5 linked regions of the Homo sapiens genome follow. The protein of the gene in region 4 purifies or fractionates together with the protein of the main gene of each other region. This does not show direct contact. Each region holds a gene or a part of one and is shown on either strand. Other genes may lie near its edges. The genes, in order: LPP, NMNAT2, AVIL, GMPPA and ACOT8.

Region 1 (6,394 bases), on a different chromosome or scaffold from region 4:
ATGCGAGGTCTGGTTGACAGCCCTGCCCTGCCAGTCTGTGGCAGGCGTTGAAAGGCTCGTTCGAGCTAGGTTTACATAGATGTAGCAATTACTAAATCTCAGAACGGCCTTAGTGCCTGTACTCATAGGACTTGGGTTTTAGATTTGACACTAGTATTCCGAGCACATGCTGTTGAATAAGTCACTGTACCTCTCTCAGTCTGCTTGCTCACCGGAAGAAAGGACTCAAGTCCTTAACTCCTCCAAATATGGCTGTGAGAGTGAAATACAAAATTGTATATTAAAGGACATTGTAAATTGTGAAATACTAAATTAGTGAGAAATGGTGTTATTGAACATTTAACTTTGGCTCTGAGGCTTTGGTTAGAACTTCTTGTTCAGAGTCATGGAGATTTATTTATTTGTTAGCATGCACTACTAATTGCTCAGTTTCCTGAACGCCTCTAGAGCTGCAGTATATCTGCATGTTCTTTTCAGTAAAGCCAAACTTCCCGCAGAGTATAACCATTGCTGCTATTGTGTTCTGGATACCCCGTTAACTTAAATTTCATTCTATGTCAAATGAAGACATGAACTCCATTGACCTCCTTGCCACCATGGTAGATAGCAGAGGCGAGGTTCATAGCTGTTGTGGCCTTTGAGAGTTTATACTAAAGTTAGCAAACACACACCTCTTGATGAAGTACTATGTATTTATTTTCCAAAGAAACTTCTATTTTCTCCAAAGACAAAGGCCAGCATTTAACTGTTATATAACACTTTTCAAAATGGACCCTAAGAGGAGCTGTCAGCGGTAGTATATTCCTTTACAGTTATGCAGTTCTTTGCATTTTTTTTTTTGATCCATTATCTTCTTTGATCCTCTTAACAGCTTGGTAAGGTAGAAAAGGCAGAAGTTATTTTCAGAGTGGCAGTCGGCCTGTGTGCATTGAGGCAGACTGTAGCAAAACTGTGGGTGGTGCTCAGGAGGCCTGTCCCCTGGACTAGCAATCTTTGCTCTCCACAATGCTGTCTCCTTTAGAAAGTACAGCAAACCACTACTCCCCACAAACTTTAGGATTTTATTTTCTTACTGCAGTTGAAGTAAATACACCGAACCCACTGGTGGCCCTTCTGCTTGGCAGACATCAGTCTACCTTTGCTCTAGGCCAGAAATGGCCAAAACATTCCATTCCTGTACCTGTGCATGCATTTTGAGAGATCCTTAAACTAATGGTAAAGGGTAAAAAATGCATCGGTGGTTAGGGACATTCTTATTTTCTCTTGTTGAGTGGGGGCAGCAAACTTCTACATGGGAGCCAAGATGGGTGGCCTCTTCTCTTCTTATACCTGTATTTCATATCAAGTGAGCTTAGGAGGATTATATTTATGTCCATTTATATTTATGTCCCCAATCTCTAATTCAATTACATTCAAGATATACTATGTTATATATTGGGAGAAAGGATACAGGGGATTAGCAGAATGTAAAGCAGGAAGGATAGTAAGTGGCCACATTATGGAGGCCTTGAATAGAAAGCTCAATCATGATGTTCTCCACATGTGTACTTAACGTTTTTACTTATGTCGTTTCCATCTGTCTTTACTGTTCTAGGATTGCGGTGGTCTCCTGTCTGAAGGAGATAACCAAGGCTGCTACCCCTTGGATGGGCACATCCTCTGCAAGACCTGCAACTCTGCCCGCATCAGGGTGTTGACCGCCAAGGCGAGCACTGACCTTTAGATTCAGTCACCTGTTCAGCCGGCACTGAGAAGAACGAACACAAGAAAAAGATAAGAAATACTAGAGTAAAGGCCATCAAACTACGCGATAGTCTCTGTTCTTCATCTGCTATTAACCTTGCCTTAGAAACACATAAATTATGAGATTTTTTTTAAAAGTTGTTACCAAATACACATTTCACATTGAATCATGTAGGATCTTGATGGGCCTTTGTTCCCAAGGACTTCCACATTTTTGCACAGATTATGCTCCATCCCATTCACTTCTGCATTCCTGTAACTTTTAATCCCTATGTTTGTCTCACTTTTCATCTGGTTGAATGGCTTTTCTTAGTGTGGTATTTGCTGTCACATAGTTTTTCCTGGGTGAGTCTGCCAACTCACAGGTGCTTTTAGGCTTGAAATCTCCATCCTATCATTTCCGTTTTGCCTGTGACTGTAAAGAGTAGCCATTCTTTTCCCATGTATTGAAGAGGATATTCTTCTCTTGCTTTATACTACTCACGTCCTTGGGGAGGGAAATGCACAATTTTTTTTTGTTAGGCTGTAAAGAATTTAAGCTGTAAATTACATAAGTTAGAACAAGCCCAAATTTAATTTGCAACCATCAGAATTCAGAATCTATAGTGACCAGTGATCAAGGCTAATTGGAAAAGAGTTATCGGCCCATAGCTAATAAGTAGTGACAGACAACCAAGCTTCAATATTTTTCTAAAGAAATTACAGGTGGGATATGCTAGAAAAGGCATTTTGGGGTTATGTTTAAAAAAACATTATTGTCCCACAATATTACCTTAAGATTTTTCTTTTCCGCACTACCTGAACATTGTAATACAGACAAACTTGATTTCTTCTAGAAGATAACATTTTCAATACTGTCCCACTTCTCATCTTAAAAATATTGTCATGTTTATTCTAATATCCAACACAACTATCAAAATTGCCTTTTTCTCTAGAGGATGAAGGCTGTGAAAAAACCGTTCAAATTCTCTTCTTTTTCTTTTTTATTACCAGGTCCATTTTGCCTGACAATTGCAAATCAGAGCATACAAAATAAAACTGTGCAGTTTTGTTTGGTTTACTTTCAAAAGAGTAGAAAGCTTGAAAAGATTCTGAAACCACAGTTTCATTATTCTCATAATCCTTCTGCAACTGAAATTACATATTGCAGGAGACATTTTCATATCATCAATGTGACATTTACACCACACTTTCAAAGACAATCACTGAAACAAAAATTGTCTTTATGAGCTAAAAATATGCAGAATCTCTGCCTAGAATCTTTATTCAAACTTTTATTAGCCAGTGAAACACTTGCTTGCCAACTGCCAAGCCATACTTATTAAGTTCGAACATGTTTCACTTAAGGAGAGACACCTAGCTTAGTCATGGCAAGTTGCCATTTTGTAAACTAAGGATTTTGGACTGAGATTTCTTAAATCTTTCTTCAAATCTCCCACAAGTATATACTTTTAAATTATGGAGTATTTTAAGTCTACAAAAAGGTATAAATAATAATATAATGAATTCCTATATACCTAATACCCAGTTTAAGACACCAAATATAACAAGTATAATTACATCCTCCAATGTACCGTTTCCTTATTCCACAGATATCTTTTTCATTATTGTGAAGTGATGTTCAGATTTCTAGTTTTTTTTCTAGTTTTTAATTTTAACATCAGAACTGAAATAAAAAATTATGGATACGTGTTTTGAATTGCAAACTATTCCTCAGGAATTCCAATTAAATTTATTTTACTTGAATAGGAATGATCATAAAAGTGATTCTTTTTTTGTGACTAGAAATTCTTAAGCCGATGGTCACTATAGCTCATCCTTAATGTATGGCTCATTTGCTTTTGTCACTAAACGGTTTTGTGTTAGAACCACCAAAATTATAGCTTTTAAGAGCTTCCTTTGACCACTGTCTTTTTCTTACCCTAGTTCTCTTATCTTTGATCGTATATTTCTCATAATGTGAAATATGATGAGATTCACTTAGGGGCAGCATGTTAGTTTTGGGAGGCAATGTCAACTGTGTCTCTGAATTCCTGTCTTCCAAATTGAAGCCAGACCATGCTGATGACCTCAAGTAGCACTGACTATTTGACAATAGGGCTGATAATGTAATCGGCTTGAATTTTGACTTAGTAACTTTTTATGTAATACTTTCGGAGAAATTCTCTTTAGGACAAAGCAGAGAGTCCAATTTATTGAGGGATAGATTGTATCTCTTAAAGTGGTCATATTATTATTAATTTTGCCAAAAGAAGAAGAATTTATTGAATATTTATACTATAAAATGCAGTAACATTCTACTTGCTTATTACATTTAAATCCTTGTGTAACTGAATGTTTACATGTCAAGAGGAAAAGCTGTAAGAAAATGCTGTCACAGACCCATCCCTGTGGCATCGTCAGCAGAATACTGCTTGCTTACAATCTTTATTATGCATTCTTATAACATAACCTCAGAGTATCTTTACCAAAGGTTTTTAAAGTAAATCTCTTTTTAAGATAGACTTATTCTTTTATAATAATGAATGTGCACTCATACATATGTAGAAACATTTAGATTTAGAGTTTTTTTTTTCTTTCACAAGGTATAATAAGGAAAGGATCCTACAATATTTTATTCTAGGGTTTCTTAAATATATGATTTATATTACTGTCTTTTCTATTAATCATTTGATTTAAACAATGCCAAGTCACTCTTTTTTAGTTGCATGAAATTTTGCCTGCAACAGAGAGAAAAAGATTGTATTACTTTAATGATTATAATCATACTGTCTGCTGATATAATATCATAATTGTTGTGGTTTAAATACATAAATAGTAGAAAAATCAGAGTCTATAACAGAAAGTTTGTAAAAATATACTGATTTTGAAAAGTATCAGGAATATAAATATTTGGTAATTCTGTGTAACAAGAGAGACATGGAAAAGGAAAAAAATCCACTATATCATGGGCTCTGCAGAACATATCAAAATAGGATTTCTTAAATTTTTCAACCCCCAGACCATACTGACTCAACATGGAGTCTCACTGGCCAAGAAAATTGCCTTTAAAACTCGAAAATAAGGCCAGGTGTGGTGACTCACACTTGTAATCCCAGCAATTTGGGAGGCTGAGACAGGAGGATTGCCTGAGGCCAGGAGTTTGACACCAGCCTGGGCAACATAGTGAGACCTTGTCTCTACAAAAAATAAAATAAAATAAAAACCAAATTAGCCAGACATGGTGGCATGCGCTTGTTTAAAAAAACAAATAAATAAATAATCGACTCAAAAATAAGTCATGTGTCCCAGCATAAGGCATCAGGTTGTTAGATGCTGGCATCTCTGCAGCTCAAAGATGTGGGTTCTTTTTCTTGTCATTAACACATTGTTATTTCTGTAGGAGCAACTTCTCTGATCAAAATTACTTTTCTGGGTATGTGCTGATTAAGGGGGTGGACTTATCAACACTATAATTGTTCCCTATGAAAGATTCCACAGAGATGTTTATGGTGAGGTTTAAAGGATATGAAACTCTACATTTAAACAAGTATTTTATATTTGGGTACAGAGGAAGAAAGAGAGGGCTTTTTCCATGGGGCTATAGTAGAGAGTTAGTGGAATATAGACAGGACTCTGAAAACACAACTTCCAGCCATTTTTTTAGTTAGTAAAAATCCTATTAATGTGAACCAGCCAGGAATAACAGTGTTATTTCTATTGGATATGGTTTGGGCTTCTCTTGTCAAATCTGTGTCGGCTGCCCCCTGATCCTTCCATTATCAAGTTTTGAAGGGTGTTGGGGAAATTATGGCAGCTGCTAGGGAGATCAGGGAAACACTGATGTAACCTCAAAGCCTCTCACCATTCCTCTTGGCTTGGAAAGGCTTTATTTTTTCATATACATTTCTAGAAATATTGCTATTCTACCTTAGTATTTCACATTTGTAGTTCAAACAAGCGATTGTCCATCTGTTGCCTAGAGCTATAGTACATGTGTGTTATGAATGAAATATGACAGCATGTTCCATACCCCTGCTTTAGCCATCTGTGGGAAACCAGCAAACTGAAAAAGACACCTCTGCAAAATGTGCCTCAAGTCCATTTCTTGGGATCGCTCGTTTGGTGCACTCTCGTGGGAGACAATCAGAGAACAACATATACTTGTGCCTTATTTTCAAAGAATCTATTTACACTACTATGAATATTCCACTGAAGAGTCAATGATGTAAATGATAACCACCAAATCTCAAAAATATACTCACCAAAAAGTAAAAAAGTAAAAAAAAAAAAAAAAGAAAGAAAGAAAAGAAAGAGAGAGAAGTCAACTTTTCATCTTAATATATTCTAGTAGTATTTATTTTTTCCTTGTCTTGGAAGTATCTCATAGGTCTTTAAATGAGTAAAACATTTTTATGCCAGAAGGTGATATAATGGATGTTAGTGTTTTTTATTTGATTTTACAGTAGTTTTAGTCAGATAATGAGGACAGAGACTTCAACTTGATTCTTTACCACCATTCAGCATATTTTTTAATTGTCTTCATTGTATTTGCTTAATAGTGGTCCAGACAAGTTCAAAACTTGTTCTCAGTGAGGCATTAATATGGTGCAACCATGAATATTTCAGGCCAAGTTATTCACTTGACAGATAACTAGAATGAAACTTTTCT
Region 2 (7,066 bases), on a different chromosome or scaffold from region 4:
TGACCCTGCTGCTGCTCTACAGCCTGGGCAACAGAGCAAGACCCTATATCTACAAATTAAAATAGAAAAAAATACAAAAAATAGCTAGAAATATTTCTGCTGTGATGAAATTCCCCAATTCCTCTGTTTTTGTTTATATAGCCAAAATAATCTGAGCTGTCCTTTCTTACTTTTCTATTTAAACTTGCTCTCTGACTTCCCAGTGGTAGATTTATTGACAAATATAGCTATAAATGTAAAGAAAGCTACATTAAATTATAATCTCTACATAGTTAAAAACTAAGCAGTTACATTTTTTAAAACTTCCAATTCCACATTATCTTCTTATGTAATGAGGCAGACCCATGAGATATGACATCACTCATTTATGAGTTTACTTTGCCAAAAACTTTTACTCATCCCTGAAAGCATTTTAGTTACAGTTGAGTATACAAGTGTCAAATATCTCTCACAAATACTATTTTTTCCTGTATGTTTCTATAGTTTCAAATAGGAGAAATAATATCAACTTCCCTTTCAGAGTAAAAGAAAAGTTCATTCTAAAAATATTTACAAATATTGAGAATTGTACAAGTGCTACTTTACAAAGATGAAGAGTGAGTTTTGAATGTCACTTCTCTTTTTGTTTACAGTCTCTCTTTTTCCTTTGATAAGAAATTGAATTTCAGGATATAGGAGCTCTATTTAAAATGCCTAATTTCAAAGTCTTGTTTGTGTCTGTTTTTTAAAAAAAAATTATTACAAATTTCAGTCACCTTAAAGAAAGCTTGAAAAAAAATTTTTAAGGCAGAGTCTGGCTGTATTACCTAGAATAGAGTGCAGTGTGCTATCTTGGCATACTGCAACCTCTGCCTCCCAGGCTTCCACCTCAGCCATCCTCCCACCTCAGCCTCCACAGTAGCTGGGACTACAGGCATGCAACACCATACCTGGCTAATTTTTATATTTTTTGTAGAGATGGGGTTTCACCATGTTGCCAAGTCTGGTCTCAAACTCCTGAGCTCATGTGTTAATGTCCATCTTCACCTCCCAAAGTGCTGGGATTGTAGGAGTGAGCCACCACACCTGGCCAAAAGTTTGATAATTTAGTTGTATTAATTATTTCCGTGTTGTCACAGAGAAAATTTTTAAAGCAATTTAAAAGGAGGAAATAGTTCATAAATAACTGGTTTCTTTAGACATGAGACAAAGATCTTAAGGAAAAGCACATATATGAATCTCACTTAGTTGATGGCCAGTTTAATTCTCTTAGTTTATGGTTCATGAAAATAGAGTGTTCATGGAATTATGCAGTCAGAAGATGAGCGGGCACTTCCTCCAGCCTTTGTTGCAGTATGAAGGCCTCTGCAAGAGGAATCAGGAACATGAGGCTCAAGTCTCAGTGCCACCCATTCTCCATGTGTGTTCATAAGTCACTTGGCTTCTGTCAGTTTCTCATTTGTAAAATAAGGGTAATAATGTTTTTCTTATAAGGTTTTTAACAGGAATAAGTAACATAACATAGATGAAATGGCTTTGTTAACCAGAACTGCTCTACAAAAATAAATTATAAAATTTATCCAGAGCTCAAAGATTCCAATAAGACATTCTACCAAAAATAGTTGAATGTGTATTTTGTGTTCTTATTCTTGCCTCATTTTCACCTGTTTATGTGCTAAATTCTTCATTAGGTAATAAACTCCTTAAAGCCATAGTGAGTGAACATATTATATCCTTTTTTTGTATTACTCTCTGAATTATACTTTAATGGACATGCAAAGGACTTTGTTCACATTCTGCCCTGGTCCTCAGTTCTTATACTAAGTAAATAATCGTTACTGCCAAAAGTCTCCTTTCACCTTTCTATATCTAAACCCTTCCACTGCAACTCAGGTCTATTTCCACATAGTCTATCCTTGAAGCTCATGGAGAATTGGCAGGTCAGCATTCGCTTAACAAAAGCCTTTATTACTGTTAACAAAGAATCTTCAGCTACAAGACAGAATCTTTGGTTCTCAATCCAAATCTGTTTCTCTTGTAATCTAAAACAACTGGGATTTCCTAGCTTCAGGAAGAAAGGAGCAGTACCTGCTGGGTCATCAAAGATTCTTAGAGCCACAGAGTTTCATCCCCAGCCCAATGGCTCTTCCCTACTCCTCCTTTCTCTTGGTTCCAAAGGAAAACCCATCATTGCCTGGTCAAGGGAGAGGAGTAAAGCGCATCAACATAAAGTGCTAGAGGACATATGGACAGACAGGAAAAGAAGGAAAGGGATGAAGACACCAGCATCAAAGGAAAGTGAAAGTGGAGTGTTCTTAGGGCACTGATAGTCCTTAGAAGACTGATGACATGCTCTTGTCTACCCTGATGCTGGAACAGAAGTCCTTATTTAACAGGCAAGTTGGCATTGGTTCTTAATAAAAGACTTTTGAAAGCTGAAGGAATGGTGAAGAAGGGATGGCTATCTCTCAGCCTCCCTCCTTCTATCGTGTAGATATGCCTACCCGATTTGCCCTTTGCTCAAAGTAGTTCTATATTCTTTCCATGAGGTTTTTAACAAGCGAGCCCAGTTCAGCGCACCTTTTAAGTTTAAAGATGAATATTTTTAGCCTAAGCCACCTCGCCCTGTCTTTACCGCTGTGGTGTGGTTTTCACTAAACCTCCCTAGGAGGGCTCGCGCAGTCCTCAGGCTCCGGATAAACACGTGTGCCCGCATCCAGCTCCGGCGCGCCCTGCATTTCAGCACCGCCGCCTCTGGAGAGCGCCTTGCTGGCGGGCCAGGTCAGGGCCTCCCACACGCTCTCTCATCCATCCCAGCCCACTCGCTTTTCCCTACTCCTCGCTTCTCTCAGTTTCAAGAAAAAGCACCCCCAACTTCTAACTTCTCAATTCCTGCTTCTAAAGTGACCTCCGCGTCCCTCTTTCCGTGTCTAAACGCTCATGCCCCACGCCTTTGAGTCCTACGAGCAGCTGCGAAGCCGCGTGGCTTCCCACCGGTGGCGCGAGACCTCCAATAGGCATCTATCGATCACCTTTCCCCTACCGCTGCTGGACCCCGAACCAGCCAGCCGGATGCCCCCGCTCGCTCTCTCTGACTCCACGCCCCAAAGCTTCTAAGAAACAAACGCGCGATAAGTCCCCTCCCCCCAACACGCACACGCATATACTCACACACAGTCATTCGCACATTCGTACACACACTAGACGCCTCAAGCCTTCCGAGTGCCATCGCCACCCTGGGCAGAGCCTCAGCCAACTTGGGCCCCGATCCTTCGGCTCCGGCTCGCGCAGGGCCTCCCGCAGCCTCCGCCCGGCCCCCTCCCCGTCCTAGGCAGCGGGTCCCTGAGGCCGAACCTAGGCGGAAAAGGGCCCCCTCCCTATTCACTCAGCATCCACCTCGCGCGGGCAATACACGGCCCACAATTCCCAAACACTGGTCCCTGGGCCGCCCAGAATCACCAGCCAAATCCGAAATTAATCTTGAAGCCCCAGCCCCTGTCACCGGTGTGTCGGGCGCGAGTGTGTTTGCGAATCCCAGGCACATACATGATTTAACTCCTTCGAGCTTTCGGCCCATCCTAAACAAACAGCACGTTATCTCCAGCCCCTTCCTCCCCTACTCGGCGCCCCAACCTCTGCCCCCATCCCGGTCTTCGCCAGCCTGGTAGCCGAACCACCGCACCGCCACACTCCAGTTCTGGTATCTCGAACCCCTGCCCAGCCCCAAATGATACTCATCTCTAGTCCCCTCCCATCCCCCACCTTTGGCCCCCTGCGAGCCGGGTCTGGCCCCGGCAAGTGACGCCTCGGAAACGCAGTCTGCGTACCCTCCCCTGAGTCCAAAATGAAGGGGCCGACCTCCACCAGCTGGATGAGCCGGCCCACCCCTCCGAAGGGGCACACGCCTTCCCGTTCGATCGCCCTGGAAAACACAGGTGCCTGGGAAAGGAGAGGAGCGGAAGCGGCTTCCAGAGGTGGGCGGGAGGACTCACCAAACATCTGAATGTGCCCTTTGGTGATGGGATTGAAGCTGCCGCAGGCGAGCAAGATAACGTGGGTCTTGGTGGTCTCGGTCATGGTGCAGATGGGTCCTTCGCGGTGGTCTAGGGGTTGCCTCTCTTTTTGTGTCTCGTTGTGTCTGCAGAGGGAGAAAGGAAGGCGAGGCTCCGGCGGTGGATGCTGTGGACTCCAAGGAGCCGCTCCAGACGCAAACCGCGTCACTCTCCGCCTCCCCTTAACGCTTGCAGCTCCGGCTAGATCCGAGGCTGCTTTTGTATTGCTCTGCTCTCTTCTCTCCTCGGTCGCTCTCTTTTCGTTCTGGCTTCCTTCGCATCTCTCGCCTGGTGCCCCACCCCATCCTCTCTATCGCCCCCAGCCCACTTCACTCCATCACTGTCTTCCTTAGAGTTTATCCAGAAGGCAAGACGTGGTATCCAAGCTCAGAACCAAGAGCCCACAGCATGGTGTGAGCTCTTTCTGCCTCTTGCCTCATCTTGATTCAGTTTTCCTCCTCATTCTAACATTTTTCTGTCCCCCCTACTTTCTCTAACATCTCCAAGTTAAAAAATGTTTGATCTTAAGGTATTTTTTCTTTCTCTCTTCCTCAAAATTTTAAGTGAGAAATGACCATTGTTTATTTCAGTAGTATTCATTTCTGCTTTTCCTTTTTCCTTTATCTGATGATTCCAAACTATTGAGTTGAGTCCAAATCTTGATCTGCTGGCTGCAGAGAGATAGGGGTGATCTAAGCCCTTCCTCTGCAATACTGATCCTTTTCGTGGGCGAAGCAATGCTATCCGTTTGAGAGAACATGAAGGGGGCAGAGTTACTAAAACTGTATTAGAAAATTATGGGGATCCGCCGGGTGCGGTGGCTCATGCCTGTAATCTCAGCACTTTGGGAGGCCGAGGCGGGCGGATCACGAGGTCAGGAGTTCGAGACCAGCCTGGCCAGCACGGTGAAACCCTGTCTCTACTAAAAAGCAAATACAAAAACTAGCCGGGCATGGTGGCGAGTGCTTGTAATCCCAGCTACTCAGGAGGCTGAGGCAGGAGAATTGCTTGAACCTGGGAGGCAGAGGTTGCAGTGAGCGAAGATCGCACCACTGCACTCCAACCTGGGCGACAGCGAGAATCCATCTCGAAACAAAAAAAAAGAAAAAAGAAAATGATGGGGATCCTCCATAAGCTACCAAAGTTGAGACAAAGACTTACCATTTAACAAGTGTTTCTTGAGGGCTCATTATGTGTCAAGTATTGCTATAAACCCTGCTGGTGAAGCAAAGTCACTGTCTTCATTTTACTGGAGGAAGATAGACAATAAATATTAGATGGCAATTGTGCAATGCACAGTAAGTGAATGCAATTTACTCTCTGACAGAGCAGAGAGTGAGTGGAGAAGAGAGGACGAATCAAGTAGTCTGAGAAGGCCTCTCTGGGGAGGTGACATTTCAGTGAGACCTGAGCGACAGGAGTAGTTGCTAGCTCACGTATTCAGGGACAGGGAAGGGCTTACTGTATTCATAGAAATGAAAGGCCAGTGATGCTAGAAAGTATGGGCAAGGGGAAAAATGATAGAAGACTGAGCAGCAGGTGATCAGGGCCAGATCAAATGGGGCTTGTAGACTAGGGCAAGAGTTAGACACTTTTCTAAGTGGAATAATAACAAAAGGAAGCCACTGAAGCTTTTAAGCAGGGGAATAATATGTAATTTACATTTTTATAGGATCACTCTGGCTGCTGGGTGGAAAGGGAGGGCAAATGGGAAGACAAGGAAAGCATTTAGGAAAATCTGGTAGCCTAGGCAAGTGGAGTTGTCCTGAGACCAGGGTTTATAGAGACGGGAGCAACGAGAAGTAGATGGTCTCAGGATATGTTTTATAGATTTTGAAATTTGGCTTAAACAATGAGTAGACTGAAATTGAGAATGGTAGGGGAAGATAGATGTTCTATGCTTATACAACAGAAAGAACCAATAATTCTTTGCAGATGAATTGGATATAGAGGATAATTCTTTTTTTTTTTTTTTTTTTTTTTGAGACAGGATCTCACTCTGTCACCCAGGCTGGAATGCAGTGGCATGATCTCAGCTCACCACAGCCTCGATCTCCTGGACTCAAGCAATCCTCCCACTTCGGCCTTGCAAGTAGCTGGGACTACAGGTGTTTGCCACCATGTCCAGCTAATTCTTCGTGTTTTTTGTAGAGATGGGATCTCACTATATTGCCCAGGTTGGTCTTGAACTCCTGACCTCAAGCAATCCACCCACGGCAGCCTCCCAAACTGTTGAGATTAAAGGCATGGGCCACAGACCCAGCCAGAGCCAATAATTCTTAACTTAGAGATTGACAAGTACAAATACGTACCTATCCTGGGCTTCAAGTTTCTTGGATAAATTTCCACCCCATATTAGTGAGTTGGTCACTGTGTTTTTTCTTATCCAAGAGCATGTGGTAGGTGTGGAGTAAATATTTGTTAAATTATGATGAATAGCAAATCAACCCTAATACGCATAAAATTTCTAGTTTAAATAGAAGACTCCTAAGAACTGATATATATTTATAATGGGGTTTGTATCTTCCCTAATATGATATGCAGATTAGTGGCTTAAAAAGAGCTAGAGCTTGTAAAGGGAGGTTGACTCAGGTATGAAACTGAGACTCACTAGCTAGGCAATTGACATAATTATAGTTAAGCAATCAATATTTATTGAGTGTCAGCCATGCACCAAGCCCTGATTTAGGGGCTGTGAACAAAACAGAGTCCCTGCTTTAATACAGCTCACATTCCAGGGGAAAACAACAGACCATAAACAAATGAATAAACATAATGGTAAAAAGTACCATAAAGAAAAATAAAGCAGAATGTGAAGAAAAGAGAAAGAAAGAAAATCCTCTTTTATTTGCAGGGGTCAAAGATGGCCTCTTTGATAAGACAGTGTTTGAACAGGGACCTAAATGAAGTGAAGGTATGTGTCACTTGAATATCTAGGGAAGAATATACCAGGCAGGACTGCTAGTATAAAGGATCGGAAGACTAAGAGTGCTTGGGGGTGTTTGACAAGCACACCAAGGTGACTGGAGAAAACA
Region 3 (6,394 bases), on a different chromosome or scaffold from region 4:
ATTTCCTGGCAATTCTGAGCAGCACAGGGTGGGGCAGCACAAGTTATCAAATTAAATTCTCAAACACTGGCTGCTCCGCACCATTGCCTTGCTTTAGTCCTGCTACAGCAGTAGACAAAGCGAGTCTGCTTTGAGCTTTATGGTTTTTTGCCAAAGTCCATACTAGATGGCGCATGCTCTCCAAACTTGGCTTTGTCCATCAAGGTTCAAGAAAACAATGGTCAGACATGTTCCTCTTAACAAACAGTATGTCCCCAAACAGCAAAAATGCATACAGTCCTTTCTGGGTGAATTTTTAAATCTTACATAAATCCATCAACCCCATCCTTTTTCCTTTGCCTCTTGGGAGAAATTAATCTAGCTTTACATTAATTATGCATGTTATCAGATTTCAAGCTCCTTGAGAGCAGGTATTTTAATTCTATAAAGCCTCTACGTGGCCTTGGACATGGGTAGGTGCTTAATTACCCAAGATGCTCCTTGAATACAGATGGTACACGACCTACACAGACTTAGATCTTTACCACTTCCCCCCTCTCCCCACCCTGACTTGCTCAATCCTGAAGGAACTGGAGACGTCTAAGTGTCTGAGGTTCACGCTTCCACACAGAAGCTTGGGTCTGTGTGGGAGGGAAAAAGGAAGCCATCTGTCCGCAGGCCAGACCAGGCCACACCCTGCTAGCACCCAGAACCCTTTGTCCCAGGCCCAGCCCTGCCATTTTACTTTCCTTGCATCTGGAAAGCACAGGGAATATAGTAGTGACAAAAGAAGGAAGGGTTGTTTGAGTTTAAGAATAGTTTACTCTAAAAAAAAAAAAAAAAAAAAAAAAAGGACAAAAGCCAAAGAGAAGGTCAAAGTTGACTGTGGAGAAGGCCTTGCAAGCAGGGAACTTGGGAAGAATTGGAATGAGAGTGAGAGAAGGCAACTGAGTTTGGAAATATTTTTTCTGACTAGCTTTTCTTTCCAAATGCCACTGAACTTAGATTGGTTTAGGAAGGGTTGTAGTACATCAAAGTGGCTAGAAGCACAGGTTTGGGGATCAGATAAGGATTTCATTCTAGAGTGTGATCTTGTACAAGTTATTCAGCCTTTGCAAACCTCAGATTCACACAATGTAAGATGAAGAAACTCACCTTCTGAAAATTAGAGATAACATATGCAAAGTGAATCAATACAGGGCTTAACATATTTATCACCCCTTTGGTAAATAACCATGACGATTACCAGAGCTCTTAAGGGCAATGGCAGGTGGGAAGCAGAACTCATGGGTGGTAATCCCCAGGCCAGCCAGGCTCACCATGTGCACTTGGACAAGTCCTTGCCCCCATCATTGTGAAATGGTGCAGGGATGCACCATGAGGGTGTGGCAGGATGGCTGACAACAGACTGGGAAGCAGCTCGGCAGAAAAACTGGATTGATGCCCACTATGGCAAGAGATATCATCTCCCCTCTTGTTCTGTGATGTTTCAGTCCTGGAAAGACAAGCATCATGCCTCTGACCAGTGCCTTCAGGGCTGTGGACAACGACCCTGGGATCATTGTCTGGAGAATAGAGGTGAGCTGGGCTGGAGGCACCTTACTTGTGACCACTGGCATCTGGAAGCAGTCTGGCTGCCTGGGGCTGCTAGGCAACAGCCCGCCAGCACCCCTTAGCCTATGGTTTGAGGAGAATGAGAGGCAGCATCAAAGTACCTATTTCCCATCCTTCACCTCTCCTGGGTGCTCAAAGCAGGTGGTTGGCAGGTGGAGGAAATGTTCAGCCCCGAAGAACAGGGCTCCAGACAAAAACAGGCTTGTCCTTTAGCCAGCCACCTGCTCAGTGAGTCTGCACTTGCAGGAAACACCCTGGAAAGACAGGTGGGACCTACTCAGCAGACTCCTGGCAGCTTCCATCAGAGAAATGGAACATGTCTTCCACGGGGCACCCTGGCTCCTACAAAATATGGGGAGAGGTGAGGGGGCACTGCAGAGATGAGGAGCTGTTCAGCCCGTCTCCTCTTGGGCTTGGGACCCTCTGTGCGGCTGTGAGCTCCAGCAATCCATAGCTGGGAACCACCCTGGCCTGGGTAGCTCCACCTGCCAGATACGAGGATTCCCCCCAACCCCTGCCCTGAGCCCAGTCAGTTGCTGCTGCCTAAAACCCAGCGATGATGCCTCACTTCACTATCCTCAACCAGGAGGGGGAGTCAGCTCTCCAGCAAGCCTCGCAGAGATTGTGAGTCCCAGGTCACTTCCACTGTTTGAAGGCTTCCAGTTTCCTTAAAAACTAACAGGTACTGGCGGGGTGCGGTGGCTCACGCCTGTAATCCCAGCACTCTGGGAGGCTGAGGCGGGTGGATCACGAAGTCAGGAGATTGAGACCATCCTGGCTAACACAGTGAAACCCCACCTCTACTAAAAATACAAAAAATTAGCTGGGCATGGTGGCAGGCGCCTATAGTCCCAGCTACTCAGGAGGCTGAGGCAGGAGAATGGCGTGAACCCGGGAGGCGGAGCTTGCAGTGAGCCGAGATCGCGCCACTGCACTCCAGCCTGGGAGACACAGGGAGACTCCCTCTCAAAAAAAACAAAAACAAAAACAAAAAACAAGTACTAAAACACGGTTACCAGATTTGCAGTATATTTAACATTTATCACATTTTACATAGAACACACACAAGTATGGCCGCAAGTTTCCCTCACTTGGGGAGTGTGATGAAAATCTACATCAAGGCTGTGTGAACAGTCCTCCAGGGCCAAGCCATACATGCAGTGATAAATCAGGGCCCTGACCCAGACTCCAAATATAAGACACTTGGCACAGAGCCCTGCTGACCGCTGGCACTCTCCAAATGTTATCCTCCACCTCCCACGGCCCCACAGAATCCAAGTGTTCTTTCTTACATGGGCCTGGGCCAGCACCCAGTGGTCAGCGTTGGGAAGAGCGTTGGAGGTGCTGGCACAACGGCTCAGAGAAGGGTTTGTACTTGGTCGTTTATATCCAGCAAAGGGCTGGAGGTGGTTCACAGGTTTCCCACAATAGTGCGAGATGAGATCGGGTGGGAAGTAGAGTGGAGAATAGGGCAAGGGAAAGCAGGATAGGGACCAAGGTTCAGATCCGGGGTGATGCAAGCAGAGCTCACAGAAGCCAGAGGGATGGCCACGTTAACCCTGTGGCTGGCAGCCTCACATCCTGTAAGGTCATTGAGAACATCTCCCCTCCTTCTCCCCACCACCTGCACCGAATGACAGAGAGGAGAGGGAGGCTCATGGGGAAGGGAGGTGGGAGGGGATGTAGCCTATACCCACCCCTTGTCCTTCCAGAAAATGGAGCTGGCGCTGGTGCCTGTGAGCGCCCACGGCAACTTCTATGAGGGGGACTGCTACGTCATCCTCTCGGTGAGCACCCTCCTCCCCACTCCTGTGAGCCTCTCCCCTGGGGCCAGTTCTTGGGCTGTACTGGGAGATGTGCTGGTGAGGGAAGGTAGTCAGTCCCTGGTATCGGTCTCAATGGTTCCTCAGTGCTATGCAGAGCAGACCTCCAGTCTGACTATCAAAGGCCATCATTAAGCCTGGGTTTTTAATGCTGCATAAGAGGATGGGGGTAGGACCCTCAGTCTGAACCTCAGTGAGCCACCCACAAGCAGCACTTCTCCCGGGCCTAGGCCCCACATTAAAGTGGTGTGGAAGAAGGCCTGATAAATGCAAGGCCTGTCTCTAGCCTCAAAGTGCTATTCTCATGGAGGAGACTCACATGAACGGTGCTGACAGGGTCGTGCAGGTGTACAGATGAGCACTGTGCCAGCTGTGTGAGTGCAAGGGACCAAGGGGACCTGTGAGGTAAGCCTGCAACCCGGCTGGGAAAAGATCCCCGTTGGTATCTATTTATTTGGGGAACAACAAGCTGTCAACTTTCCCCAAATGCGGGGAGGAATTTGGGCTGCCAAAGTTTATGCCATGATCGCAGGTCTGCTCGGGGGCCAGGGCAGCTCCCACATCCACTGCAGGAGAGAGGGCCCTCAGTCTGCCAAGGGCATGCACATGTGCTGCATTCTCCCCATAACAGGGGCCAGCAGCAAAGGGGAGGTGAGCTGGCCTCTGACCTGATCTCTCTGACTACCTCCCAGACCCGGAGAGTGGCCAGTCTCCTATCCCAGGACATCCACTTCTGGATCGGGAAGGACTCCTCCCAGGATGAGCAAAGCTGCGCAGCCATATATACCACACAGCTGGACGACTACCTGGGAGGCAGCCCTGTGCAGCACCGAGAGGTCCAGTACCATGAGTCAGACACTTTCCGTGGCTACTTCAAGCAGGGCATCATGTGAGTAGGGGTGCACAGAGCAAGGACAGAAACAGCAGTTTACAGAGGAGGAAACCCAAAAGGCCAACATGCATTATCAAGAAAGTAATCAGAGAAATGCAAATCAAAACAAAGCTGTCACTTCCACCCACTAGAGCAGCAGATTAAACAGCTGGGAGGTGCCAAGTGTTGGCAAGGCTATGGGGAAATAGGAGCCCTTGTGCCCTGCTGATGGAAGTGTGGACTAGCGCAGCATCCTGGAGAGTAGTCAGTGCCACTTGCAAATCCCACTTCTGCATGTGTAACTCACAGAAATCCTCACGTATCCAGGTCCATAAGGGCACATGGACCAGACTGTTCATAGCAGCCTCATTAATGATGTTAGGAAGCTGCAGGCAACGTAGGTGTCCATCACTCGGAGACTGGACATGCACACCACGGAGTATTATGCAGTAGCCAGAAGCAACAGATTAGATACACACCTAACACAAGGACAGAGCTCACAAACATGGTGCTTAGCACACAAAGTAAGAAACAGACTAAGACATATAACAGAATGCCAATTTCTGTTTTAAAAAGCACACGCATGGCCAGGCATGGTGGCTTACGCCTGTAATCCCAGCACTTTGGGAGGCCGAGGCAGGCGGATCACGAGGTCAGGAGTTCAAGACCAGCCTGATCAACATGGTGAAACCCCGTCTCTACTAATAATACAAAAATTAGCCGGGCATGCTGGTGCACACCTGTAATCCCAGCTACTCGGGAGGCTGAGGCAGGAGAATCATTTGAACCCAGGAGGCGAAGGTTGCACTGAGCTGAGATCATGCCACTGCCCTCCAGCCCCGCAACACAGCAAGACACCATCTCAAACAAAACAAAACAAAACAAAAACATGCACACAAAACAACAGGATGGGTTGGGCGTGGTGGCTCACACCTGTAATCCCAGCACTTTGGGAGGCTGAGGCAAGAGGATAGCTTGAGCCCAAGAGTTCAAGATCAGCCTAGGCAACACAGTAAGACCCTCATCTCCACAAAAAATATTTTGTAAAAAAGCTAGCCAGGCATGGCGGTGCACTCCTATAGTCCTAGCTACTCCATGGGCTGAGGGTATTGAGCCCTCAATTATCGAGCCTGCAGTCCCTGATGAGGATCACTTGAGCCCGGGAGGTCAAGGCTGCAATGAGCCATGATTGCACTATTGAACTCTAGCCTGAGTGACAGAGTGAGACCCTGTCTTTAAAAAAAAAGGTGGGGGACACAGTTTACTAGAATGAAAATAAAAAGGTCAACAGTTAGAATGGAAGCGTATTGGGGAGAGGAATGGGAGTAGGACAGGCAGATAAAGGGAATGCACAGACACATAACACTAGAGAGGGAGCGAAGGCTGATGATAATGTTCCATCAACTGAGAAGTTTAACTCAAAACTTTGCCCCTGATATTAAAACAAAAAGAGGAATTCCAATGAGCTTGAGAATTGTGAGGCTGGGCCAAGATCAGCTTCTTGCAGGTCAGCAGTCTCCACTGACTGAGGCCCTTCTGGGCACAGAGGAGCACACTGAGCCACTGGGGAACCCAAGGACAGAGCCCCTCTGCTCCAGGGCTACCTTCCGCATTCCCTTAAAGTGCAGGACCCCTGGCTCGGAGGCTGGGCTGGGCTGAGTGCAGGGCGGGTGAGCTGATTCCTAGGGTAGGTGGTCTTAAGGCCGTGGAGTCATTAATGCTTCTGCTGCAGCACAACTTGTATCCCTCTCCCAGTAACACACTGGCATTCAGACAGTTCCTGGAACAAAACAAGCCCTCTGTGGTGCAGGGGTCTTTGTCACTGATGTCTCCTGGACACTGTTATAGTGCCTGGAGCACTATTCTTCTGGGTATTGGTTCATTTTCCTTGTAGTATCTCAGTTCAAATGTCATTTCTTCAGAGAAGACTGCCCCAACTCGCTACCAGAAAGTCACTCACCCAGTCTACTTGTGGGGCAGCAGCTGCCACCATCTGTATTTACCTTGCTGATGTACTGTCATCACATGAGTGAGGCTGCATCTGTGTAATTCACCACTGTCTCCCCAGAACCTAGCACATAGCAGGCACTCAAATAACTGAATGGAT
Region 4 (5,694 bases):
TGTTACAAAGACCTCAGCTTTGCTAGCGGCACCCCCCTTCAAACACTGACCCTTTCCCCTTCCACTGCCTCTCCCCACCATGTCCCCACCCCCACTGGGTCTAGGAGGGGGATCCCGGGGGCCAGGGCCTGACACAGACTTATTGGATTTCACGGTGTTTTGCTGAGAAAATAATTAAATTATCATATTTATGATGGAGCTGCCATGGCCTCTGCCAACCACTCGGAACAGAAGGGTCAGGACTAGGGGGGAGGAGAGGGAAGGGACCTAGCCCCTGGTCCTATGGCCCACCCTCTCCCAGCCCCTTCCTTGGGGTGATGACCCCAGCCCAGAGTGGGGACCTGCAGCCCCCTCCCACTCCCATGAAGAGAGATAATGAAGGTCTGGGCTGGAGGCCAGGACAGGAGGAACTGAGGAACTAGGGACAGCTTATAGGTCAGGACTGCTAAACCCCACACTGTGTAGATCGTTCCCTACATGCTGGCACACAGCCCACGGGACCTGAGGGGCCTGGGAGGTCACATTTGGCCCAATCCCCAAGTCAACCTCAGTCCAGCTCCTGAGAAGGCGCAGCTTCCTAACTGCCAGGCTATGAAGCTATGAAACCCTGGGCTCTGTCCCAGAGCCTGGTGCTGATAACAAGGCCCCAGCACCCTGCTGCCTGCCACCCCTGCCTGCTGCCAGGACCCCCTCCTTTCTCCCACCCATGCCCTGCACCCCCCATTCTCTTCGGGTAATTAGATTCCTCTCAATTAGCAGATTACGATCATTACCAGCTCATCTGGCAACACAGCTCCACACCCACAGCTGGGGAAGGGGGGCACCAAGAGGGGCACATGGGGGTCATGGGCAAACATGAGAGATGGCTGGGAGAGGAGGGCTGAGACCTACCAAAGGGCAGGGCCAGGGGGACAGGAGGTGGTGAGGGCCTTCCCAGAACAGGGTACCTCCCACTGTGCTTCCGAAGAGAATGGCACCAGCTCAGGCCCACCCAGCCTGCCAGGGGAGTAGAAGACAGAGACATGAGGCCTCGGGCAGAGGCAAAACCCCCACCCTGCCAAAAGCCAAGCTGGGAGCAGATGGAGCTGGCAAAGCGGAAAACCGGCCAGGGCTGGGCTCAGCGGGAACCGAGCAGAGCGGGCTGTGGGGATCAGCCTCTAGGCCTGTGGCCCCAGTTCCTCTGCCTGCTGCCCAACCAAAATCCTTCACCCTTCCCTTCGGAATCCTTGCACATGGGGGCCTGAGCCAGGCCCGGTGAGGAGGAACAGGGAGGCAGGGAGGCAGGGGTGAAGGGGGGGACCAGGCTGGCAGGGGAGCCTAGAGGGCCTTCCTCCCGAGCAGCACGAGGCTGAGGCAGTGGGAGGGGGAGATTTACCAGGGCTCCAGATTCATTATTCATGAGCCCACAGCAACGACTCCAATTTAAATGCTAATGTGGGGGGGCCTGACTCAGCTGCCCCGCTTCCGCCCCCACCCCCAGCCCAGACATAAGTACAGTCTGTGCTGGCTCCAAGGTTCACGGGGTTTATTAGGGAGTCGGGAGGGAGAAAACCCAGGAGTCCCCAGGCCATCCACATTGCTCCCCGGCATGTGACGATCCAGCCTGGCTTTCTCTGGTCCTTTCTGGACAGAGGCTGGCCAAGCAGGCAGCAGCCTCAAGGGGAGTGGGTAGGAGCTGGGGGCCTTCTGGCAGCCCTACTCAGAGGATGATCTGGTTGGTGAAGCTTCGGCTCAGCTCCTTGTGTGGCAGAACAATCGAGTTCAGGATGAGCACCTCGGCAGGGATCCGGACTCGGCAGCCTGCAGCATGGATGAGGGCACCAGGGGAGGTCATGGGAGGGGAGACAGGGGCAGGGAGCTGGGGGCCACTGCCAGCAGGGAGGGAGCCCTCCTGCCCATCTGTGCCCCTGGTCTCATGCCCCCGGTGACTCACACAGGGCCTGGCACACAGCAGGCCCTTGGTAACTGTTTGCTAAAAGAAGAAACACGCGTGCACACAGAGGAACGAATGCTCCCCGGGGCCACTGGCCATCAGCTGAGGGGTTCCCCCAGCCCTGGCCCCCAGGAAGCCATACCCAGGATGGTGATAGCAGGCAGCAGCTTCCCGTCCTTGAAGAGGCTCTCACTGTCCATGCGGGCTCGGGGATCGTTGGGGTTAGGGTCACTGGGGGTACCCTCCACGCGGGCCCAGCGTCCCACGGTGCTCCCCCAGCCCACGATGCTATGCAGAACACACGTGTGCTCCTGCCAAAGAGGACAGTGAAAGGTAAGGGGAAGAGGCAGGAGGCAGCAGGAACCGGAGGGTGTGAGGTGTGGCCAGATGCAGAGCCCACGGCGTTCACCCTTCTCTGTTCTTGGGGGGATGCCTGGGCCCTCCCCGCAGCCTCTTGGGGTGTCACATGCTGCTGTGTATGCTGGTACCTACCTGCAAAGTGGCTCCATGGAGGACGATGCTCTCCCGGAGCCGCACACCCTCACCCACGGTCACCCCCTTCCCGATGGAGACGTTGGGGCCCAGCTGTGGAGAGAAGCACACACCATAAGCCCTGGAGGGACTTGGAGGATCCCCAAACCCAACTCCCTTCTAGAACAGATAAGGCATAAGTGACCTGCTCGAGGACACACAATAGGCTGTGACAAAGTGAAGAAACCGGCACCCAGAACTCAGGCAGCGTGGGCACCCTCCATCCATCCGACCACCACCCTTCCCTCCCTGGGGCTGGGACCAGTGCTCACCACAGCCGAGGGGGCCACCTTGGCGGTCGGGTGGATGTACACATTCCCTAGAAGCAGAAGAGAGGCCCTGGGGGCAAATATCCCAAACCGAATTTGATCAGGAAGGGGCAGGGATTGAGGCTTTAACTCTGGACTCGAGGTCAAGAATCCTGGTTCAGAGGGCTGGGGTGGAAGCCAAAGGTTAGGAATTGGGGCAGGCTGGGTACCTCGGATCCATGGGCCCCCTGGGGTGTGCTTGGCCAGCCGTTCTGGGTGAGTGTCCTGGTATCGGCTCAGGTAGAGGCGGGAGGCGTAGAGGGCTGAACTGGGGACCGCAAGGGGGACAGGGGCTCAGGGGTCAGCAGGGCCTGTGCCCACCACCCCAAAATTTCAATCCCCAGGGGACCCAGCCTTCCATACCCTGCGGACTTGATCTGACTCCAGATACCATCAGTGAGATGCACGTATATCTGGCCCTGCCCTGCCAGGGCTGAAAACACATCCTGCTCTAGGCGGATGGTACCTGCCCCTGGCCACAAGCCTGGTGAGTCCTCCCTGGCAGAGAGGAAGAATGCTGACATTAGTCCCCCAGCTGAGCCCCGACTGTGGGGCTAACACAGTCTCCCAGGGACAGGAGTAGGAGGATTCCCACCACCTCTCTAAGCCCCTCTCTCCAGGTCTGGTTCGGCCCTCTCTGGGATGTGGCTGCTCACATCCCAGGAACCTCTCCCACCCAGCCCCCACTTGGGTGGGTGCTATCACAAGGGAGCCCCAGGCAGAGGCCTGCTTCCCATCCCTGCCCCATTTCCATAAGGAGTTCCCCCCATTTTCACATTCTCATCCCCATTCAGCCCTTTACCCCCTCCAAGTTACCCTCCCCCTCATTGGATGGAATGAAACACAGACAGACTCACCCCAGAGCAAGGCAGCTGGTGAGGGCAGAGACAGTCACAGAAAGAAAGGGAGAGAGAGATGGTAGAGATGCCAGCTCAGCAGAGACAGAGACAGAGAGGCCAGGAGAGATGGAGAGGGAAGCAGAGACACGGGTGGGAGTGAGAAATGGCTATGAGCAGAGGAGGCCTTAGATGGGGCGGTGGGGGGTTAAGGCAAGGATCCCTAGAAGGGAACAGCTTCTAGCCCCAGGAGGGAAGACCCTGGGACTGGTGAGCAGGGCTCTGGTGCTATGTTCCAAGGGGAGCCTCAGCCTGAGAGTATGCATGTCTGTCTGTGTGTGCACGTGCACACGTCTGCACCCGAGCATGTGTGCGCCCAACTGTGTGTTGCTGTCTGTTCTGAAAGACGTCTCTGGGACACTCAGGGCTTAGGAGAAATGGACCAGAAGGGGAGTGGGCAGGCAGTGACAGAGGAGGAACTGGGATGGATAAGGAAGAGGGACAGAATGAGGTTAGAAGGGGAGGGACTCAGGAGGCTCTGCTGGAGATGGCAAGTGGAGAAGGGAGAGGGGAGGAGGAAGGTGAGCAAGTTGAGATGGAGCCTGCAGAGACTGGTATGTGTTGGGGTCCGTGACTGGGGGTACTTGGGGTCACAGGGCTATGGGGCCTGCCTCACAATTGCCCATCCTGCTGATTACGCTGGAAGACATCCCGAAGAGGCTTCAAGGCTTCAGGAGAAAAGAGGTAGATGCCGCAGTTGATGATGTCACTGATAAATGTGCTGGGTTTCTCCACATAGTGCAATACCTGAGGACAGAGCAGGCTGGGTTCAGTAGAAGAAGGGACTACCGCCACAGTCCCCTAAGACCCTCTGATTTCTAGGCCCTTCTTGCCTCTCCTCCCTGCTGCCAGGGTGGCCTGGCTAAAATGCAGTGCGCATCCGCATCCTACTGCTGCCTGGCTTTAAACCCTGAGATGACTGCCCTTCACCTGATTCAGCTTCAGATAAATCCAAAGTCCATGGCTTTCCCTGCCTGATCCTCCCCACCACCTACCTCTCAGACGCATTTCCACCCGACTGCATGCCTGTGCCTGGAATGGCCTTTCTCATCTCTTCATCTGGAAAGCCCACCTTTCCAAACCCAGTTGACACTGTCACTCTCTCTGTGCGTCCTCTCTTGCTGGCCCGAGTTAGCTGTTCATGCCTGGGCACTCCTGAACTCTGGCCACGCCTCACCCATGGCATTGTATCATTTGCAAAGGTTGCCTTTTGATTCTGTCACTCCTATTAGACTCACAGTAACCAAGAGGCAGGGACTGCACCCATTTGGCTCTGTTTCTCTCACAGCTACCTGGTGCTGAGCACAAAACTATATGTGTGTAGGTGTGTACATGCATGTGTGTGTGCGTGTTTATATGTATGTTTTATATTAAAGCACGAACAAATAAAAGGAGTATGTGACGCCAGGTATGGTGGTGGCTCATGCCTATAATCCTAGCACTTTGGAAGGCTGAAGTAGGTGGATCACTTGAGCTCCGGAGTTCGAGACCAGCCTGGGCAGTATGACGAAAGCCTGTCTCTACTAAAAATACAAAAATTAGCCTGGCACCTGCCTGTAATCCCAGCTACTCAGGAGGCTGAGGCAGGAGAACGGCATGAACCCAGGAGGCAGAGGCTGCAGTGAGCCAAGATCGCACCACTGCACTCCAGCCTGGGCAACAGAGTGAGACTCTGTCTCAAAAAAAAAAAAAAATCAGCTGGGCATGGTGGCTCATGCCTATAGTCCCAGCTACTTGAGGGGCTGAAGTGGGAGGATGGCTTAAACCTGGGAGGTCGAGGATGCAGTGACCCAAGATCATGCCACTGCACTCCAGCCTGGAAGACAAAGTGAGACTCTGTCTCAAAATAAATAAATAAACACATACATACATAAATAAATAAAGGAGGGAGGGTTATGTGAAAGTCAAGGGGCTTAGGAGAAGGGAGTTTCACAAAACAGGACAGAGCCCTGCTGCCCTGCCTATCATGCTCCTGCTTCTGGTATGTTACTTCCTGCCTCCAGGCCTTTATACCTGCCATTCCCTC
Region 5 (5,980 bases), on a different chromosome or scaffold from region 4:
TGCCACCACCAGAAGAGCTGCTTGACTGTGAGACCCTCATTGACCAGTATTTAAGGTGAGAGACCTGGAGGCTCCATGGCAGACTTTTCAAAATGCAGCTGCTATCTGTTTGTGGGTCATAGAATCCTTTAGTGGGTCTTGACCAGCATTTTTAAAATACAGATTAGAAAAGAAGATACTGGAGTGAATAATATGTATGTATTAAGGGCAAGAATCCTTTTGTGAAACTTGAGGTTTAGTCATGTGTGTTTCTGGTGTGTGTCTGTACTGGGTCATGGTATAAAATGAAGGGCTTGGCCGGGTGCAGTGGCGCATACCTATAATCCCAGCACTTTGGGAAGCCAAGGCAGGAGGATTGCTTGAGACCAGGAGTTGGATACTAGCCTCGCCAACATAGCAAGACTCCATCTCTAATTTAAAAATAAGGCTGGGGCTGGGTGTGGGGGCTCATACCTATAATAACACTTTGGGAAGCCCAAGTGGGAGGATCACCTGAGCCCAGGAGTTCAAGACCAGCCTGGGCAACATGGTGAAACCCTGTCTCTATAAAAAATACAAAAATTAGCCGGGTGTCGGGGCATGTGTCTGTAGTCCCAGCTACTTGGGAGGCTGAGGCGGGGGGATCACTTGAGCCTGGGAGGTGGAGGCTGCAGTGAGCCGAGATCGTGTTACTGTGCTCCAGCCTGGGCAACAAGAGCAAGACTCTGTCTGAAAAAAGAAAAAAAGAATATATATTTTGTTGTTGTTTATATATATACATGTTTGTTTGTTTTTGAGATGGAGTCTTGCTCTTGTTGCCCAGGCTGGAGTGCAGTGACACCATCTCGGCTCACTGCAGCCTCTGACTCCCAGACTCAAGTGATCCTCCCGCCTCAGCCTCCCAAGTAGCTGGGATTACAGGCACCTGCTACCATGCCCAGCTAATTTTGTATTTTTAGTAGAGATGGCGTTTCACCATGCTATCCAGGCTGGTCTCAAACTCTTGATCTCAGGTGATCCACCCACCTTGACCTCCTAAAGTGCTGGGATTATAGGCATGAGCCACCATACCTGGGAAAAAAAACCATATATATATTTTATATATATATGTATATAGAAATACTTCCGTAACCACTTGTTAAGTACCACCTCCCCAGCCCCCTAAGTGATTCCCTCTCTCCCCCAGGCCCCTGGTCCAGCAACTTAGGACTTAATGCACACCAGGAGTGAGTGTCCTCTGGAGAGCTGCAGCGCTATGGCCTATGTTTGGTCACTGCCTTTGCATTAGTGCATGTTTTTGTTTGTTTGTTTGTTTTGAGACAGAGTCTCGCCCTGTTGCCTAGGCTGGAGTGCAGTGGCATGATCTCGGCTCACTGCAACCTCTGCCTCCCAGGTTCAAGCAATTCCCGTGCCTCAGCCTCCCAAGCAGCTGTGATTACAGGCACATGCCACCATGCCTGGCTAATTTTTGTATTTTTTTAGTAGAGACCAGGTTTCGCTATGTTGACCAGGCTGGTCTTGAACTCCTGACCTCAAGTGATCGACCTGCCTTGGTCTCTCAAAGTGCTGGGATTACAGGCGTGAGCCACCGTGCCCGGCCACATGTTTTATGTATATAAAACATATGTACAAAAATACAAATATGTATTTTCCCCTAACCATTAGACCACCAGGGAGCATGTTAGATATTTTGAATACCTGGTAAAATATATTTATTTGGATCACACCTAATCAAGTTTGAAAAATGCTGGTACAGGGGAAAGAGCTCTGGGTCCAGACAAAGGATAGACACATGGATTCTGTCCAGGGCTGTGCCTCTGTGAATGCTCACCTGCTGTGGGACAGTGCCCAACTCCCCAGGGCCCTAGTTTCTTCTTCTAAAAAATGGGAATGCTCATTTCTGCCCTGCCTACTTCTTAGCTGTATCATAAGGAGAGAATGTCTCTATCTCGTGTTAGATACTGGGGAGGCAGCAGAGTATGACGGGATGGATGTGGGTTTGGGAACCTGAAAGGCCTGGATTCAATTCTAGATTTTGTCCCTACTAGCTGTGTGAGTTTGGGCAAGTTGCTTTCCCACTCTGAGCCAGTACTCACCATTATAAAATGGTGCTAATCATATTCCTACCTCATAAGGCTGCTGTGAGGATTAAATAAGAGAGAAAAGGCACTTAGCGTGCTAGTACTAACTAGCACAATGGCAGTGAATTGTAGTTATATCACTATTAACAGAAAAAACACAGGGCCTGGTGTGTGGTTGCAGTTCGACAAATGTTTGCTGAAATGAAAGGAAGACATTGTTAAAGGACCTTGAATTTAGATCTGTGCTGTTAATAAGGTAGTCTCTAGCCACTCGTGGCTATATTACATTAATTAAAATTAAATAGGTCCGGGCGCAGTGGTTCATGCCTGTAATCCCAGTACTTTGGGAGGCCAAGGCGGGTGGCTCACCCAAGGTCAGGAGTTTGAGACCAGCCTGGCCAACATGGTGAAACCTCATCTCTATTAAAAATACACACACAAAAAAATTAGCCAGGCGTGGTGGCCCGTGCCTGTAATCCCAGCTACTCAGGAGGCTGAGGCAGGAGAGTCGCTTGGACCCAGGGGGCAGAGGTTGCAGTAAGCAAGATTGAGTCACTGCACTCCTGACTGGGCAACAGAGCGAGATTCCGTCTTAAAAAAAAAAAAACAAAAAAAAACCAAAGTCAGTAGAATGAACAATTCTGTTCCTCAGTTGCATTAGCCACATTTCAGGTGCTCCATAGTCACATGTGGCTAGTGGCTACCATAGTGTGCTGTGCAGATAGGCATTCCATCATCATAGGAGGTTCTGTCCAACAGCACTCCAGAGGATAGGGGTGAAAATGGCAGGACCTGTGCAGAGCACTATGGGTGGTTGTCACTGTATTGAAGGGAGTTCCTTGGAATGGGCTCCTCCCCCTGGGGGGATGCAATGTTCCCTACTGTGTAGGGTTTGGTAACTCAGGCCAAGTCAGGCAGCCTGTTTCTTGAGTGTTTAAAATAATGAAGTGGCTGGGCACAGCAGCTCACTCCTGTAATCCCAGCACTTTGGGAGGCTGAAGTAGGAGGATCACTTAAGGCCAGGATTTTGAGACCAGCCTGGGCAACATAAAGAGACCCCATCTCTACAAAAAAAAGTAAAAATAATCCCAGCATTTTGGGAGGCTGAGGCGGGCGGATCATGAGGTCAGGAATTCGAGACCACCCTGGCCAACACAGTGAAACCCCATCTCTACTAAACATACAAAAATTAGCTGGGCATGGTGGCAGGCGCCTGTAATCCCAGCTACTCGGGAGGCTGAGGCAGGAGAATCACTTGAACCTGGGAGGCGGAGGTTGCAGTCAGCTGAGATTGCACCACCGCACTCAAGCCTGGGTGACAGAGCTAGACTCCGTCTCAAAATAAAGAAATAATAAAAATGTTAGCCAGGCACAGTGGCGTACACCTCTAGTCCCAGCTACTCGGGAGGCCAAGGCAAGAGGATGGCTTGAGCCTGGGAGTTGGAGACTGCAGTGAGCTGATTGCGCCACTGTACTCCAGCCTGGGTGAGAAGACGACCTTGTCTCTAAAAAAATAGAAAATAATCATACTGTGGACCCAGATTGCCTGAGTCCAAATCCTGTCTCTCCAATTTTTAAGCAAGCTACCTGGACTCTGTGCTTATTTCACTGATGAAATGGGGGTGATAATAGTACCTATCTCACAGGGTTGTTGTGAGGAATACTATTGTATGTACAATGCTTAGAACAGTGCATATTACAGGGTATGCCTTATTACTATGATGTGTTGGTTAGATATTCATGATCTTGTCTTCACAGTGTTGGTTATGAGGTAGGTTACTATCATTATCCACATTTTGCAGATGGGAAAATAGACTCAGATTACTAATTAGCACGAGACCACATGGCTCGTAAGTGGCCAAGAAGGGATTCAAACGCTGCACTATCCTGCCTGCCACAGGGGAGGGGAGCTTTGGGGATATCAGGGGTCCCTGTGGAAGAATGAGGGGAGTCAGAAGAGGCAATGCAGATGTGACTCCCTCTCTTCCTGGGTCTCACCCCGACCCTCTTCCCTTTACTTTCAGGGACCCTAACCTCCAAAAGAGGTACCCATTGGCGCTCAACCGAATTGCTGCTCAGGAGGTCCCCATTGAGATCAAGCCAGTAAACCCATCCCCCCTGAGCCAGCTGCAGAGAATGGAGCCCAAACAGATGTTCTGGGTGCGAGCCCGGGGCTATATTGGTAAGAGTACCCCATGGATGGGAGGAAACCACTCTCCAAGGGGTCTACCACTCATTTGCTGTGTGGCCTTGGGCACATGAGTTCCCTTCTCTGGGCCTGTTTCCTTATCTGCATGATGGGGAAGTTGGCTTAGCTTCTCACCTGGGCCCTCTCAGCCCTTTGCATGGGGAGAAGGTGGAGATGACTATAATCCCGACACAAGGCCTTTCTGAGGAAGGCAAAAGGCACCTCGCTGGGGTTGTTGTCCAGCTTTGCTGCTAACTATAAAGTATCTTTGTGCAAATTGGAAGAAGACACCCCTTTTGGGGCCTAGAGTGGGAGACTTGGGTGGTGAAGACTGAATTTCAGTCCCTGCTCACCCCTGCCCTCCCCAAGTCGCCATCTCACTTCTCCCCTATCACACACACACACTGTAGGCCAAGCGCTCTTGTGCAGCAACCAGTCTGCACACCCATGCACGGGAGTCCCTTTTCCCCCTACCTCCGTGCAGGTCCTGAGCTGGAAAGCCCAGGAGCCCAGGGCTGATGGGGACCTGTTGCAGGCGAGGGCGACATGAAGATGCACTGCTGCGTGGCCGCCTATATCTCCGACTATGCCTTCTTGGGCACTGCACTGCTGCCTCACCAGTGGCAGCACAAGGTGCACTTCATGGTCTCACTGGACCATTCCATGTGGTTCCACGCCCCCTTCCGAGCTGACCACTGGATGCTCTATGAATGCGAGAGCCCCTGGGCCGGTGAGTGTGGGGCCGTGTGGGACAAGGGCACTGACCTTGAGTGGCAGGAGCCTGCTTTCTTGGGTGATGCTGATTTCCCGACTTCCTGTGTGGCGCTGCACAGGTCACTTCCTTTCCTTCCCTCCCAGGCTTTGGCATCTTCATCTTCAAAATGAGAGGGTGAGGCCGGGACACCTGCTCTGCTCTAAATTTCTAGAATGTGCTGGAAATGTGATTCACCTTCTCCCAGGGACCCAGTTCTAGTCCCAAAACCAGTTCAGATTCTTTGTATTACAATAGGCAAATCATATCTTCCATCTGAACCTCAGTTTCCTCATCTAAACAAAGAGGGTTACATTACAGCAGTGGTATCCAAACCCGCAGTCCATCAGACTGCCATTTGGGGATGCCTTTTCAAAATAGATTCTGATTCCACCCTCAAGATTCTCACTCAGTAGGTCTTGGATAAGGTCCAGGAAACTGTATTTTTAAGTTCTCTAAGTGATTCTGATTAACCTGATTGGGATCGGGGCATTCAGTGGTCCCTAAGGGCCTGCTTGGACCTTCCTTGCAGGGGAGAGAAACAAGACTCGTTCATCAATGTCTAGCTTCAGAACCCTGACCTCCTTTCCAAGGGAGTACATTTCAAATGAAGAAAAGCTTTGCTTGATAAACCAAGGACAAAACTCAAGGATTCTTTATACTCAGATAAGGGGTATTCTCAAGTACCAATAGCATCACAATCCAAGATTGATAACCTTGAAGTGAGGACATGGGTTCAGATTTGGCTTCATCATGGGGCCAAATTCCTGACCCTCTCTGGATTTCAGTCCTGGTCTGGAAAACTGGACAACACATAACTGCTTCATTTGGCTACTGTGAGAACTGAGTGAGCTCTGCTATGTGTAAGGGAAACCAGCAATCATCCTCATAAACATCAAACTTGGGCCCAAAGCCAGCAAGGGAGAAAGAGTCTCCAGATGGGGAGGGAAGAGGCCAGACCTCATGGCCTCAAGTCCTCTC

The links.
Region 1: the proteins of GMPPA (region 4) and LPP fractionate together in Homo sapiens (co-fractionation; one large-scale study listed by BioGRID). This does not show direct contact.
Region 2: the proteins of GMPPA (region 4) and NMNAT2 purify together in Homo sapiens (co-immunoprecipitation; one large-scale study listed by IntAct). This does not show direct contact.
Region 3: the proteins of GMPPA (region 4) and AVIL purify together in Homo sapiens (co-immunoprecipitation; one large-scale study listed by IntAct). This does not show direct contact.
Region 5: the proteins of GMPPA (region 4) and ACOT8 purify together in Homo sapiens (co-immunoprecipitation; one large-scale study listed by IntAct). This does not show direct contact.

What each region holds. Positions count from the first base shown.
Region 1 is NC_000003.12:188,872,757-188,879,150, forward strand, and holds part of LPP (lipoma-preferred partner), read left to right. Parts: coding exon 1-7; intron 8-1,594; coding exon 1,595-1,723; 3' UTR 1,724-6,394. UniProt on the Homo sapiens protein: May play a structural role at sites of cell adhesion in maintaining cell shape and motility. In addition to these structural functions, it may also be implicated in signaling events and activation of gene transcription.
Region 2 is NC_000001.11:183,414,212-183,421,277, forward strand, and holds the start of NMNAT2 (nicotinamide/nicotinic acid mononucleotide adenylyltransferase 2), read right to left. Parts: upstream 4,170-7,066; 5' UTR 4,057-4,169; coding exon 3,972-4,056; intron 1-3,971.
Region 3 is NC_000012.12:57,811,138-57,817,531, reverse strand, and holds part of AVIL (advillin), read left to right. Parts: exon of another isoform or gene 1-1,472; 5' UTR 1,473-1,491; coding exon 1,492-1,557; exon of another isoform or gene 1,558-2,275; intron 2,276-3,305; coding exon 3,306-3,380; intron 3,381-4,108; coding exon 4,109-4,305; intron 4,306-6,394.
Region 4 is NC_000002.12:219,502,804-219,508,497, reverse strand, and holds the end of GMPPA (mannose-1-phosphate guanylyltransferase regulatory subunit alpha), read right to left. Parts: intron 4,416-5,694; coding exon 4,285-4,415; intron 3,645-4,284; coding exon of another isoform or gene 3,630-3,644; intron 3,271-3,629; coding exon 3,136-3,270; intron 3,041-3,135; coding exon 2,943-3,040; coding exon of another isoform or gene 2,784-2,942; coding exon 2,737-2,783; intron 2,519-2,736; coding exon 2,426-2,518; intron 2,245-2,425; coding exon 2,076-2,244; intron 1,801-2,075; coding exon 1,700-1,800; 3' UTR 1,509-1,699; downstream 1-1,508. UniProt on the Homo sapiens protein: Regulatory subunit of the GMPPA-GMPPB mannose-1-phosphate guanylyltransferase complex; reduces the catalytic activity of GMPPB when part of the complex. Mediates allosteric feedback inhibition of GMPPB catalytic activity upon binding GDP-alpha-D-mannose.
Region 5 is NC_000020.11:45,842,525-45,848,504, reverse strand, and holds part of ACOT8 (acyl-coenzyme A thioesterase 8), read left to right. Parts: coding exon 1-55; intron 56-4,084; coding exon 4,085-4,242; intron 4,243-4,732; coding exon of another isoform or gene 4,733-4,767; exon of another isoform or gene 4,768-4,783; coding exon 4,784-4,978; intron 4,979-5,228; exon of another isoform or gene 5,229-5,980. UniProt on the Homo sapiens protein: Catalyzes the hydrolysis of acyl-CoAs into free fatty acids and coenzyme A (CoASH), regulating their respective intracellular levels. Displays no strong substrate specificity with respect to the carboxylic acid moiety of Acyl-CoAs.